Homo sapiens: one gene and its partners. The protein of the gene in region 1 interacts with the protein of each later gene in a pairwise test. Each region holds a gene or a part of one and is shown on either strand. Other genes may lie near its edges. The genes, in order: ZDHHC22, FCRL2 and TRIM59.

What was found.
Region 2: the proteins of ZDHHC22 (region 1) and FCRL2 interact in binary tests that used the Homo sapiens proteins (3 or more experiments, as listed by UniProt).
Region 3: the proteins of ZDHHC22 (region 1) and TRIM59 interact in binary tests that used the Homo sapiens proteins (3 or more experiments, as listed by UniProt).

Annotation. Positions count from the first base shown.
Region 1 is NC_000014.9:77,140,155-77,143,982, forward strand, and holds the start of ZDHHC22 (palmitoyltransferase ZDHHC22), read right to left. Parts: upstream 1,638-3,828; 5' UTR 1,449-1,637; intron 591-1,448; exon of another isoform or gene 389-590; intron 1-388. UniProt on the Homo sapiens protein: Palmitoyltransferase that could catalyze the addition of palmitate onto various protein substrates and be involved in a variety of cellular processes. Catalyzes the palmitoylation of KCNMA1, regulating localization of KCNMA1 to the plasma membrane.
Region 2 is NC_000001.11:157,775,000-157,778,827, reverse strand, and holds the start of FCRL2 (Fc receptor-like protein 2 isoform 1 precursor), read left to right. Parts: upstream 1-1,695; 5' UTR 1,696-1,754; coding exon 1,755-1,785; intron 1,786-3,032; coding exon 3,033-3,053; intron 3,054-3,828. UniProt on the Homo sapiens protein: May have an regulatory role in normal and neoplastic B cell development.
Region 3 is NC_000003.12:160,436,187-160,439,786, forward strand, and holds part of TRIM59 (tripartite motif-containing protein 59), read right to left. Parts: intron 3,001-3,600; 5' UTR 2,998-3,000; coding exon 1,786-2,997; 3' UTR 1-1,785. UniProt on the Homo sapiens protein: E3 ubiquitin ligase involved in different processes such as development and immune response. Serves as a negative regulator for innate immune signaling pathways by suppressing RLR-induced activation of IRF3/7 and NF-kappa-B via interaction with adapter ECSIT.

The DNA of each region.
Region 1 (3,828 bases):
GAGGAGAAAGGGAAGGATTTGGGGTCGGGGGCAGGAGAATCAGCGGCACTTGACCTGCTGGAAATCCTGCTTCACACTCCCCTTTCTCCGTCCCTGCGTCCCCACCCACACACACATCTTGGGCAGCACTCAGGGACCTCACCAGGTTACCCAAGGCTCTTTGGAGGTATGTGTGCGTGAGGGACCACGATGTGTGTGTGTGTGTCCTTGTCTGTGACTCTGTACGTGTAATCTGTGTGCGCTTGAGTATCTGTATTTGTGTATGTATATATCTGCGTGTACAGACACGCAGCCTCTGCTATCTAGCTTTAAAAAAATCAATTGAAACAATCGATACACTCACACTCGCTCTCGGGCACCGGGTGAGGTGGGGGCGCAACCAGAATACCTGTGTCAGCGGGTCCTGGCCAGCACATCTCTCCAACGCTGGCTGCCCGGGCTATTTCTTTGCGAAGAGCGTTTTCATTTGAGGCGAAATTAAAATCCCCCCTTCGCGCCCGCCTCCCGCCCTCCTGCTGAGAGAAACCCAAACAACCCTCATGGCGCCGAAATCCTTTCCATGCCGACAAGCCCGCCCTGGGCGCACGAGTGGATGCTTGGCCAGCCTTTCCTGGGATCGACCCCGCCGCCGTGCTCAGCCCTCACCACGTCCCCATCCCACCCCACGCCTCACAGCCGGGGTTCCTGGCCAGCTTCGGAAGCCACCGAGAAATAGGATTCCGTGCGCCCGAGAGAACTTTTCCAGGGGCTAAGGAATCGGCCAGCCGGAGGCGCGAGAAAAGTTCTGGGAAGGCGGTTGCACCTAGGATGGGTGGATGCCACGGGGCCTCCGTCCAGGCTGTCCCGTCCGCACGGGTCGACTGGTCACCTTGGAATCCCCTTTGCAGGTCCCAGCGCCCCCCGGGAACCCGCAGCCTCCGCGGAGAGCGTGGGCCTCTCCCTACCGCTGGGGCGCAGCGCAGTGCACGCCTGAGGGTGGTCGCCGGGGGCTGGGCACGCCCCCAGTCCTGCGCCGCCGGGGGCTGCGGCGGTGCTGCCCACCCCAGAGAGCCCTCGGCCTGGGGCTCCGGCGAAGCAAGTGCCTTCCCGGCGCCGGTCGCCAGGGGGGCGCGGGAGCAGCCAGATGCGCCGCAGCGCTGGGAAGGCGGCGAAGGACAGGGGCTAGGGGAGTGAGGGGCGCTCGGCAGGCAGCCTCAGCCCTGGCCCTGCGCGGGAGAAGGGACAGCAGAGACCGCCCGTGGGGCCCCGGGGTGTAGGGAGCTGTCCGTTCAGCCCTGGCGCCCGCCTCGCCCGCGGCAGAGGGCGGCACAGCCGGAGCCTTGGAAAGACCGGCAGCGCCGGCAGCCGCGGGCTTCTCGGCCACTGCCTCCCGGACGCACGGGAAGCCGCCCCCCGCGCCGCCGCCGCCGCACTGCCGCCGTCGCAGAGGGGTGAGGAAATCAACTCACCGAGCTCTGGTCGCCGACAAGAGGAGCCCCGGACGCCGGCTCTCGCCCTGCCCGAGGCTGCAAAGTTGTGGACTCGGCCCGGCTGGCTCGCAGCCTGCGCTTCGCTTCGGGAACTGGGCAAGTAGCGGGGATGTGGGGAGGAGGGAGCGGGCAGCTGCTGGCTTCCCACTTGGGCGCCAGCGAGTAAGGGCCAGGAAGCGGCGGGGATGGCAGCTGGGCACCCCCCAGCCCCGCCACCCCTCCCTCCGCTCCTGGGGGCGGTGCTCTGGCCGCCAGTCTCAGCATCGTGGACTTGCCCCCTCCTCCCCTCTCGATTCCCCTTGAGCGGGCTGGGGCGCCCTGCCTGGTTTCAGCGCCCGTTCCAGCTGGGAGATTGGGATTCAGCCCTGATGTGGATTCTCCAGCCATCATCCTGCCCTTCCCTCTCGGCTAGGTCCCACGACCTTCCCTGCTCTCCACTCGGACTGAAGGAACCCTGGGGGCTTGAGAGGTCAGCTTGCCAGGGCAACACCCATGAAGATCAGCGTCATCTCCTCGGAAGGGCTGTGTACAGAGGGTTGGGAGTTGGGACTCTGGAGCCTGTCTACCTGGGTTTGAATATTCACCATTCACTACTGTGAGATCTCAGATTCCAGTTTCTTCGTCTGTAAATTCCAGTGTGATCTTAGATTCCAGTTTCCTCATCTGTGAAATAGAGATATGAGGGTTAAATGACAATCTATGTAAAACCCTTAAACAGGGCCTGCCCAGGGCAAGCACTGCTTGATTAGATCATAATTAGACACTACTTATCGGGCCCCTACTAGGTAGCAGGCATTGTGCTAAGCCTTTAGCATAAGATGCTTCCTTAATCCTCTCAGCCTGATCTGTGAAGCTGGCTGAGCCCCATTCTGGAGATGAGGAGGTTGAAGCTCAGAGAAGCTAAGTCTCATGTCTAAGGTCATACAGCCATTAAGTGACAGAGCCTGGACTTGAACCTGGTTCTAGCATTAATGCTCCTGCACTCAGCCTCTACACAGCCCAGCATCACCCTGGGACCCACGGGCAGCTCTGATTTGAGAGAAGGAAAGACAATGGGAGTTTATCCAGACACAGAGCTTGAACTTGGAGCTTCTTCTTTGAGCCTCACCCCCACCTTCTTATTTCTATTTCCTTCCCCTTCCAGGGCTCCGCTATTCTAAGGTGGGTACTGTGATGCGCCAAGAGGGTAGTGACACCAATGTGTATCAAACAGTGGGGGGTGGGGGGAGCAGAGCCTTAAAAACATCAAACACTGCAGGAATATTGGTGCCATCACCATCCTCAATTTCCTGGGTGTCGCAGCTCACCTACCTGCCCTGTTCCTCTCCTCTCGGTGATGGCATACTTAATAAATAAACATTTATTGCTTTCTCAACTGGCTGATTAAAACAAGAGCAATCCCTTGAAATGAGGGCCATATGCTGATCAGCTCAGCCTCTATTCTTGAATAACCACACACTGTTTCCTCTGTAATTTATCAGCATACATCAAAATAAAAAAGAGGCCAGGAAACCTTTTCACATTCTAAAAGGATCTGACATGTAAGTGAAAGAACAGTATATGCCACATGGTGGCCGTGAGCAGCTGGTAGCCTTGTGAGTTCCAGTGGCCACAGGACAGACATGGGGAGGCACACATGGCCCTTTTCCCTTCAGAGCAGCTTTGTCTCATAATCGTGGCCGTCTGGGCCCCTTTTCACAAGCTCTGTCTGCCTCTCACATGGGCTTGGCAGGGAGGGAGGCTGGCTGGGGTGCTTGGGTTTGGGTATACTGACTGAAGATCTCCATTCCCCAAATACCTTGTGAGTCGGGTGGTATTTCTAATTTTATTTTGCATATGGGTGTGAGGTGGGAAGGTGTGTGTCTGAATCTGTGTGTATGAGGAAAGGGAAAGAGAGAAAGAAGCTAAGCGAACGTGGGAAGATGTTAGTGGGGGAAGGGAGTATTCAGTCAGGAAAAGGAGATCTGGTCGTGGAAACACAAATGGACAAGGACGATTATTTATTTAGAAATATCGTTTATCAACAGAAAAGGACATTACAGCTTCAGATCTAAAGCTAGTGGTTCCTCAGCTCCCCTTAAGGAATGGAGTGAAGGGAAGCACGGCAAATGTCATTTTGTTTTTCTAAAACTTATGCTTATCCCTGACAAAATCAATAGGGAGGCAAAATCAATATGAAAACTTCACTTGGATTCTGGCCCTATGAGAGTCAAGCAGACTAAGAATGAGCATTTTATTGCCATTTACCAGCTGTGTGACCATGAGCTGCTAGTCATTTAACCTCTCTGCTCTCAGTATTCTCATCGGTAAAATGGGAATAAGAATGCTGCTGTTATTTGTGGTGATGATGATCAAATGG
Region 2 (3,828 bases), on another chromosome or scaffold:
ACTACAGGCACCTGCCACCACGCCCGGCTAATTTTTTGTATTTTTAGTTGAGATGGGGTTTCACCGTGTTAGCCAGGATGGTCTTGATCTCCTGACCTCGTGATCCGCCCGCCTCAGCCTCCCAAAGTGCTGAGATTACAGGCGTGAGCCACCGCACCCAGCCCACTTTTTTCTTAATCATATATCCTAGACATCTTATCTTGCTATTAAATATTATTCCACAGAATTATTTTAATGGCTGTTTGGTTTTCCACAGCATTTGACACATAACTTATTTTTAACACACATCTCTCCTTGTGATATATTTTTAGTATTTTCTTTTTACATTATTATAAGCAAGGCTTTAATGACCATCACATATAAATATTAGCCTTTCTCAAAGTAAAACTATGATAATAGTGAGAATAAAATGTTAAGTATCCAATTGTTAAAAATTCAATGTTAAGTATTCAGGTAAATGTTAAGTACCTGAACAGGTAACATTGAGTCTATGAATATTTTCAGTCAGTCCCTCATTTATAAGCACCTGTGATTTTTTGGTTTAGAGTTTCATCCTGCATAAGGTTCACTGATGAGACAACATCTACTGGGACTACATCTAATCAAAGTGAGCATGATAATAGGTGTTCACATAACACGCGCTTTGCTTTGTGTGAGATAACTGTATTAGGATCAGCCTGGGGTACAAAAAGCAATGCAGATTAGAAATAGGCAATGTTGTGATTACAGATTAGAAAGATGGCAATGTTTTCAGCAATATAGTGCAAGTGTTTTGAAGTTTAGTAAAATCTCATTCTAGAAAGTCATCGAATGACTACGAAAAATTTTACTTAAGAAATATGAGCTATTGAAACAATGGCCTTATTATTTTATGAACCTTGAGAAGCAATATATCAAGATAATAGGGCACAATGTTTAAGAGCCAGACTGTGACACTGGGCTGCCTGGGTTTGAATCCCAGATCTGTTACTACTAGAAATTGATTAAGCTGATCTTGGTCATTTTACTGGCTGCTATCATCTGAATGTTTGTGTCCTGGCAAAATTCTTATGTTGATACTTAATCCTCAATGCAATAGTAATAAAAGGTACCCACCTTTTATTACATGACCTTTTAGGGGTCATGAGTGTGGAACTCTTATGAAAAGGATTAGTCTCCTTGTAAAAGAGGCTTGAGGGAGCTTGTTTGCTCCTTCCATCATGTGAAGACACATAGAGGACACCATCTATGAGAAACAGGCCCTCATCAGACACTGAATCTACTGGTGCCTTGATCTTAAACTTCCCAGCCTCTTGAACTATGAGTGATAAATTTATGTTGTTTATAAATTTCTCAGTCTAAGGTATTCTTTATAGCAGCCCCAATGGACTAAGACACTTACCTTTACTAGTGCCTCAATTTCCTTATTCATGTGAAAGGGGATAGTGCCAATTCAGAAACTTGCTGAAGGTAATAAATAACTCTGTAAGCATGAGGCACTTAGAACTGTGTCTGACTCATTGCAACCCATATGTAAATGCTAGGTATCATAATGAGGGTCAAGTTACAAAATTTCTCTGGCATTGAGAGGATCAGCTATAATTGTTTTAGCCCTTCCAGGACAAAGATAATGGTTAAACATAGTGGCACTATTCTACTTCCTTTTTTGCTAATTATACAAAACCTATTCTGAAAACCACATTTCATCGCCTGCTCAGAGTCTCCAGTTGGTGACCAAGAGTACATCTCTTTTCAAATAGCTGGATTAGGTCCTCATGCTGCTGTGGTCATTGCTGGTCATCTTTGGTGAGTTCAATAATTTGACTGAGAAGTGAGGTGGCAGCTGAATGAGGTCTACTGCTCCCAAAAGGTTGGAGGTTTTATTGGAGCCCAGGGACTGGTGGGGATGCTCAGGTCCTGCCTGCAGCTTGGGCTTCAAAGGCAGATGCAAAGAAGTAGGCTGAGGACAGTGAATTTGCAGCACATCCATTAAGCATTAAGCACAATGCTTAATGTTCAAGGTGGACCACTTTTCCATTTGCTGGTCATGAATTGCTATTTTGATATCTTAGATCTCATTGAGTAATATAATGTTCTCATAGTAAAATGTTCATAATATTAGCATTTAGCAATGCCCTTCTCCTCCATGAACACCGATTATTCAATTGTTATCTATAAGATTTGGGTTCAGCAGATGCATTGAGACCCTTTGCTAATATTCCTCTGTTTAATCGTGGACAATGAGGGAGATGACAGCTGCTGCTAGAAAATAAGATTCCTGGGTGAGTGCAGTGGCTCATACCTGTAATCCTAGCACTTTGGGAGTCCAAGGCTGGTGGATCACTTGAGGTCAGAGTTCGAGACCACCCCGGCCAACATGGTGAAACCTCATCTCTACTAAAAATACAAAAATTAGCCAGGCGTGGTGGTGGGCACCTGTAATTCCAGCTACTCGGGAAGCTGAGGCAGGAGAATTGCTTGAACCCGGGAGGTGGAGGTTGTGGTGAGCCAAGATCGCACCATTGTACTCCAGCCTGGGTGAGAGAGTAAATAAGATCCCTTTCTCTATGCTGTGTAGGCACTAAATAAATATTTGTTATTGGAATACAAAGGGCTCTAACGTGAAATATGGCCATAGGAAAGAGACTGATTTGTTGATTTCTTGGAACTCTCACAATGTATGTTTCCTGATGAGCCCTTTGTGATCGTGTTGTCATGTCTATCTACCACTTGAAAAGTCAGAGTGTGAGATAGAGTGGTGGGGATGGTGGAAGGAAAATGAAATCAAGGAGAGTCACTAAATATCCAACATGGGTATTCTCGACAATCCCTTTAGTCAAGCATTGGGTTTGCAACTTGCCTTTTGACTACAATGAATGACAGTTAGATGTGTGCTCGAGGGAGATTGAATTGTTAGTAATAAGAGATTAGGGAAATAGAAAAGAAAGGGAAAATGGAAAGAAGTTTTTGAGCAATTTACCAGAGTAATATAAATTTATAAATTATGAGGGCAAATGCTGTGTGCTAATCTCTGGCTTTTGATCTCCTCACAGATGCAGTCACTGAACAGGCAGGTGAGTCCTCCTTGTCTTTGTTGTTCTTGGTCTCTGGCATATCAGTCACCCCACTACCCCAGGATTCTATAGAGGTGGCTCTGGAAAGCCTGTGAAGATGTCCTAATATTACTGCCCTCTAGGCTGACATGTTCTGAGGTCACGCAGCCTGTTTCCAACACCACTTGCATGTCTGGGTGACCAGGTACCACCTAGCCTTCTCAAGACCCCACATGCTTGCCTCTTCCTTAAAAGCCTGGCTTTAAGAAGGGCAATAACATGCAGATTGAAGAAAAGAACAATTTGGAGAGAATTGTTTTCCTGCCCATAGGACTGTAATGCCTCTTTATTGTCTGGCTGAATGCTGAATGTTTTTACAGCTCTGAAAACAGCTATTTATAGAGGAATGTGTCAGAACTACAAACTTCTGCAGGGTCAGAATAAACATGTGTCCTCATTGCTTCTCTAGCTCTAGCTCAGGAATCAGCAAGCTTTTCCTGTAAAAGGCAAGAGAGTAAATAGGCTAAGCTTTTCAGGTGTGTGCCGTAACTACTCAATGCCATTGCTGTGGTAGCAGGAAAACAACCATAGACCATATGTAAACGAATGAGGATGGCTGTGTTCCAATAACATTTTATTTACCAAAACAGTGTTGGCCAGCTCACAGGCCATAATTTGCCAACCCGTGCTCTAGATTTAGTATTTAGTTTTGATTTTTTAAAAATGCATGTATTACTGTTCTAATCATAAAGAGTGAAATAAAGCTAATTTTATTTCACTCTTTCTGAGTTAAATC
Region 3 (3,600 bases), on another chromosome or scaffold:
AGACTTATTCTCAGCAGGTAAGAGTTTTAGAACTAGTTCCCTGAAAAAGCTGTATTTATGATAGTTTATGTGCAATCTGTAGGGCCAGGAGCATAGTCTAATCTGACCCAGAATGTCTTTTTGATTTGATATAGGTAAGGCTCTTCGGTGATCCAAGAGCAGCCCCTTTGGGATTTCTGGAAAGCAAATCAACCTGCACTTAGAGTTGCATGGACAGTGGGCCAAAAGTCGTAACACATGCATCATAACTCCAGTCCCTGTTAAAGGGAACTAAAGGGCTTTGATTTAATTGGCCCTCTTAAGCAAAGCTAATAAAAGATTAAGTTGTTGGGCCGGGCGTGGCGGCTCACGCCTATAATCCCAGCATTTTGGGAGGCTGAGGCGAGTGGATCATGAGGTCAGGAGATAGAGACCATCCTGGCTAACACAGTGAAACCCCATCTCTACTAAAAATACAGAAAATTAGCTGGGCGTGGTAGCAGATGCCTGTAGTCCCAGCTACTCGGGAGGCTGAGGCAGGAGAATGGTGTGAACCCGGGAGGCGGGGCTTGCAATGAGCCGAGATCACGCCACTGCACTCCAGCCTGGGCGACAGAGCAAGACTCCGTCTCAAAAAAAAAAAAAAAAAAAAAAAAAAAAGATTAAGTTGTTGGTACTTTTGCATTAGCTTAAGGGAATGTGGTAGAAAATTTAAATGAGTTAAGATGAATAAAGTCCACATGATGCCATCAAAACCTGTTGCAGACCAAGTTACCAACATGATTCTGTTCTAATAAGAATGAGTTTTTAATCCAAGAACTGATTTGACTGACGAGCAGAAAAAAAAACAATCTTAAATTTGCACAAACTATAGAATATGACAAGTATTAGAAAATGCTGGCCCCCAGGCACAGTGTGGCTAACGTCTGTAATCCCAGCACTTTGGGAGGCCAAGGTGGGCAGATCTCTTGAGCCCAGAAGTTTGAGACCAACCTGGGCAATATGGCAAAACCTCGTTTCTACAAAAAACAATTTTTTTAATTAGCCAGGCATGGGGGTGTGTGCCTTGTCCCAGCTGCTCCAGAGGCAGAGGCGGGAGGATCGATTGAGCCTGGGTGGTCGAAACTGCAGTGAGTCATGACCAGACAACTACACTCCAGCCTGGGCAACAAGGTGAGACCCAGTCTCAAAAATTTCTTTTAAAAAGCCACTTTACTCTAACAGTTATCCAAAAGCAATAGTTTTATTTGGAGTGAATGGTGATAAGCATTTAGGGCTCTTAAATCTATCTCAAACACAGGTATGTTTGATCAAAAGATCTTTAAGCCATGCCTTATCACTTTAAGACTTTGTTGCTTGATTTTGAAACCTTTCTATCATCCTTATTCACCCATTCAAAAGCTTCAAGCCACATCAAAATAAAGGTATATGTTCTTTCAGGATTTTGCTATATATATAAAGAACTGTAAAGCCAATTAACTGCAGTATATAATAATGGTAAAAGACAATATTGGTACAAGAATGTTTAAATGTCACAGCAACATTATGTCAACCATCATAAAGCCAATAAAAATGGGATAGTGTATTACTTTTCAAATTGTTACTAGATTCTGTTTCCCAAAGATTTGACTATTTCAGATATAACTTTGACATATCATTGCTAACCAAAAGAAGCAACAAATATAAACATTTGTTTATATTAGTTGCAGCACTAATAAAGCTTAGTTTGCTCTTTATCCATGCTACCCCATTTTTTGTTTAGCAATGTACAGAATAAGCCCATTTAAACAATTCAGGTTGACATTTTCAATGGGAAACTATTTTCCACACAAATTCCTTCAACAAATAGAAAATGTGACACAGTATATTCTTTACCTTATGCAGACTGTTAGATAAACTTTGGTAAACAGATAGAGAGGCTTCAGAAAACCATATTAAAGTGATTTCACTTAAAAAGGTTATGATGTGTTGGTTGAAAAAGAGTATCGACATCAGTATTACTGAAATTAATGTAACTACAACAATGTTTAAAATTTTTAAAAATTCAACTTCCTTTTCATCCTTACCAGGCCAGGAACATGACATCCTTTTTGGAGAAATTTTCATTTTGGGAATGAGAACGTTCTTAATTTGTCCAATTTCTGTTCTGCTCCATTCTTCTTTCAATATTTTGCTTACTCGAGGATAAATTTCAACGGGTTGAACCTCAGGAAGTGGTCTTTGTTTCAAGATCTGTACATGCTGGCGTACATCATCAACTTTTTCAAGAAATTTAAGTGGAGACTCTTCTTGTAAAGATATTGTCAGTGCCATTAATTCAAGCTGCTGCTCTCGTATTTCCTTCATTCTTTCAATTTGTGGAGTATATTCTTGATTAATTAGATTGCCAACATCACAGAGAGCCGTTAGGAAACTTTTTTTTTTCTGTTCTAATGTATCATTAAGCTCCTTAAAATACTGGAGAACAGCTTCCTTATCGCCTTGGATCATTTTCTCAGAATGAGATTTTTGTTCTTTCAGCTTTTCAATAAGATGGGTAAGATCTGTCCAGTGTGTGTCAGTCAACTGTTCAAGCAGTTTTTGAGGAGTGTCCTTTTCTTTCAAATAGGCACTTTGAAGGTCATCTATAGGATGACCATGATGTTGACCTATGGTAAGGCAATGACCACAAACTAATTTTTTATCTAATAGACAGTAAACATTTAATGGTTGCCTGTAATGTTCAGGGCAGGTGACAATATCTGGATGGTCTTCTTGCTGGTACTTTTCAATAATAGCCCTTAGTGCAAAATTAACAGGTAAAGATTCAATGCCAGTTGGAGCAATTTCAGTAATACTTCTGCAATTAGGGCACTTGAGTGGAATTCGTAAAGGTCTCCATATATAAAAGTTACCAGATGCCTGAAGAATGTTTTCCAAACAATTTCTACAAAATGTATGAGAGCATGGCAGTACACGAGGATCTTCAAAAATACTATAACATATGGGACAAGTTAACTCTTCCTCAAAATTGTGCATTTCCTGTCAAGAGAAAAATGTATTTTAAGTTTACATAGAGACACCTGTACATATTATTTAACATTCTAGGCATTAACCTCCAAATTGTTACCATACTGCTTGTCATTTAAAAGAGAACAAGGTATTTTTAAAATGAAGTTTTCTGAGTAATTCATTTCCTAGTATATATAGTGAATAACTGATCACAATTAAGAGTTTATTCCTTAGGGACCAAAATCATCCCAAACAAAGCAATTATCATTAATTTGTAGTAAAATGCTTCAAATTTAAGTTATTTAAATTTGTTGCTATGTGATATGGTTTGGCTGTGTCTCCACCCAAATCTCATCTTGAATTGTAGCTCCCATAATTCCCACATGTTGTGGGAGGGACTCAGCGGTAGATAACTTTAGTCATGGGGGCAGTTCCCCCATACTGTTCTTGTAGTATCACGAGATCTGATGGTTTTGTAAGAGGAAACCCCTTTTGCTTCACTCATTCTCTTTTCTTGTCTGCCGCCATGTGAGACGTGCCTTTCACCTTCTGCCATGATTGTGAGGTCTCCCCAGCCATGTGGAACTGTGAGTCCATTAAACCTCTTTTTCCTTATAAATTACCCAGTCT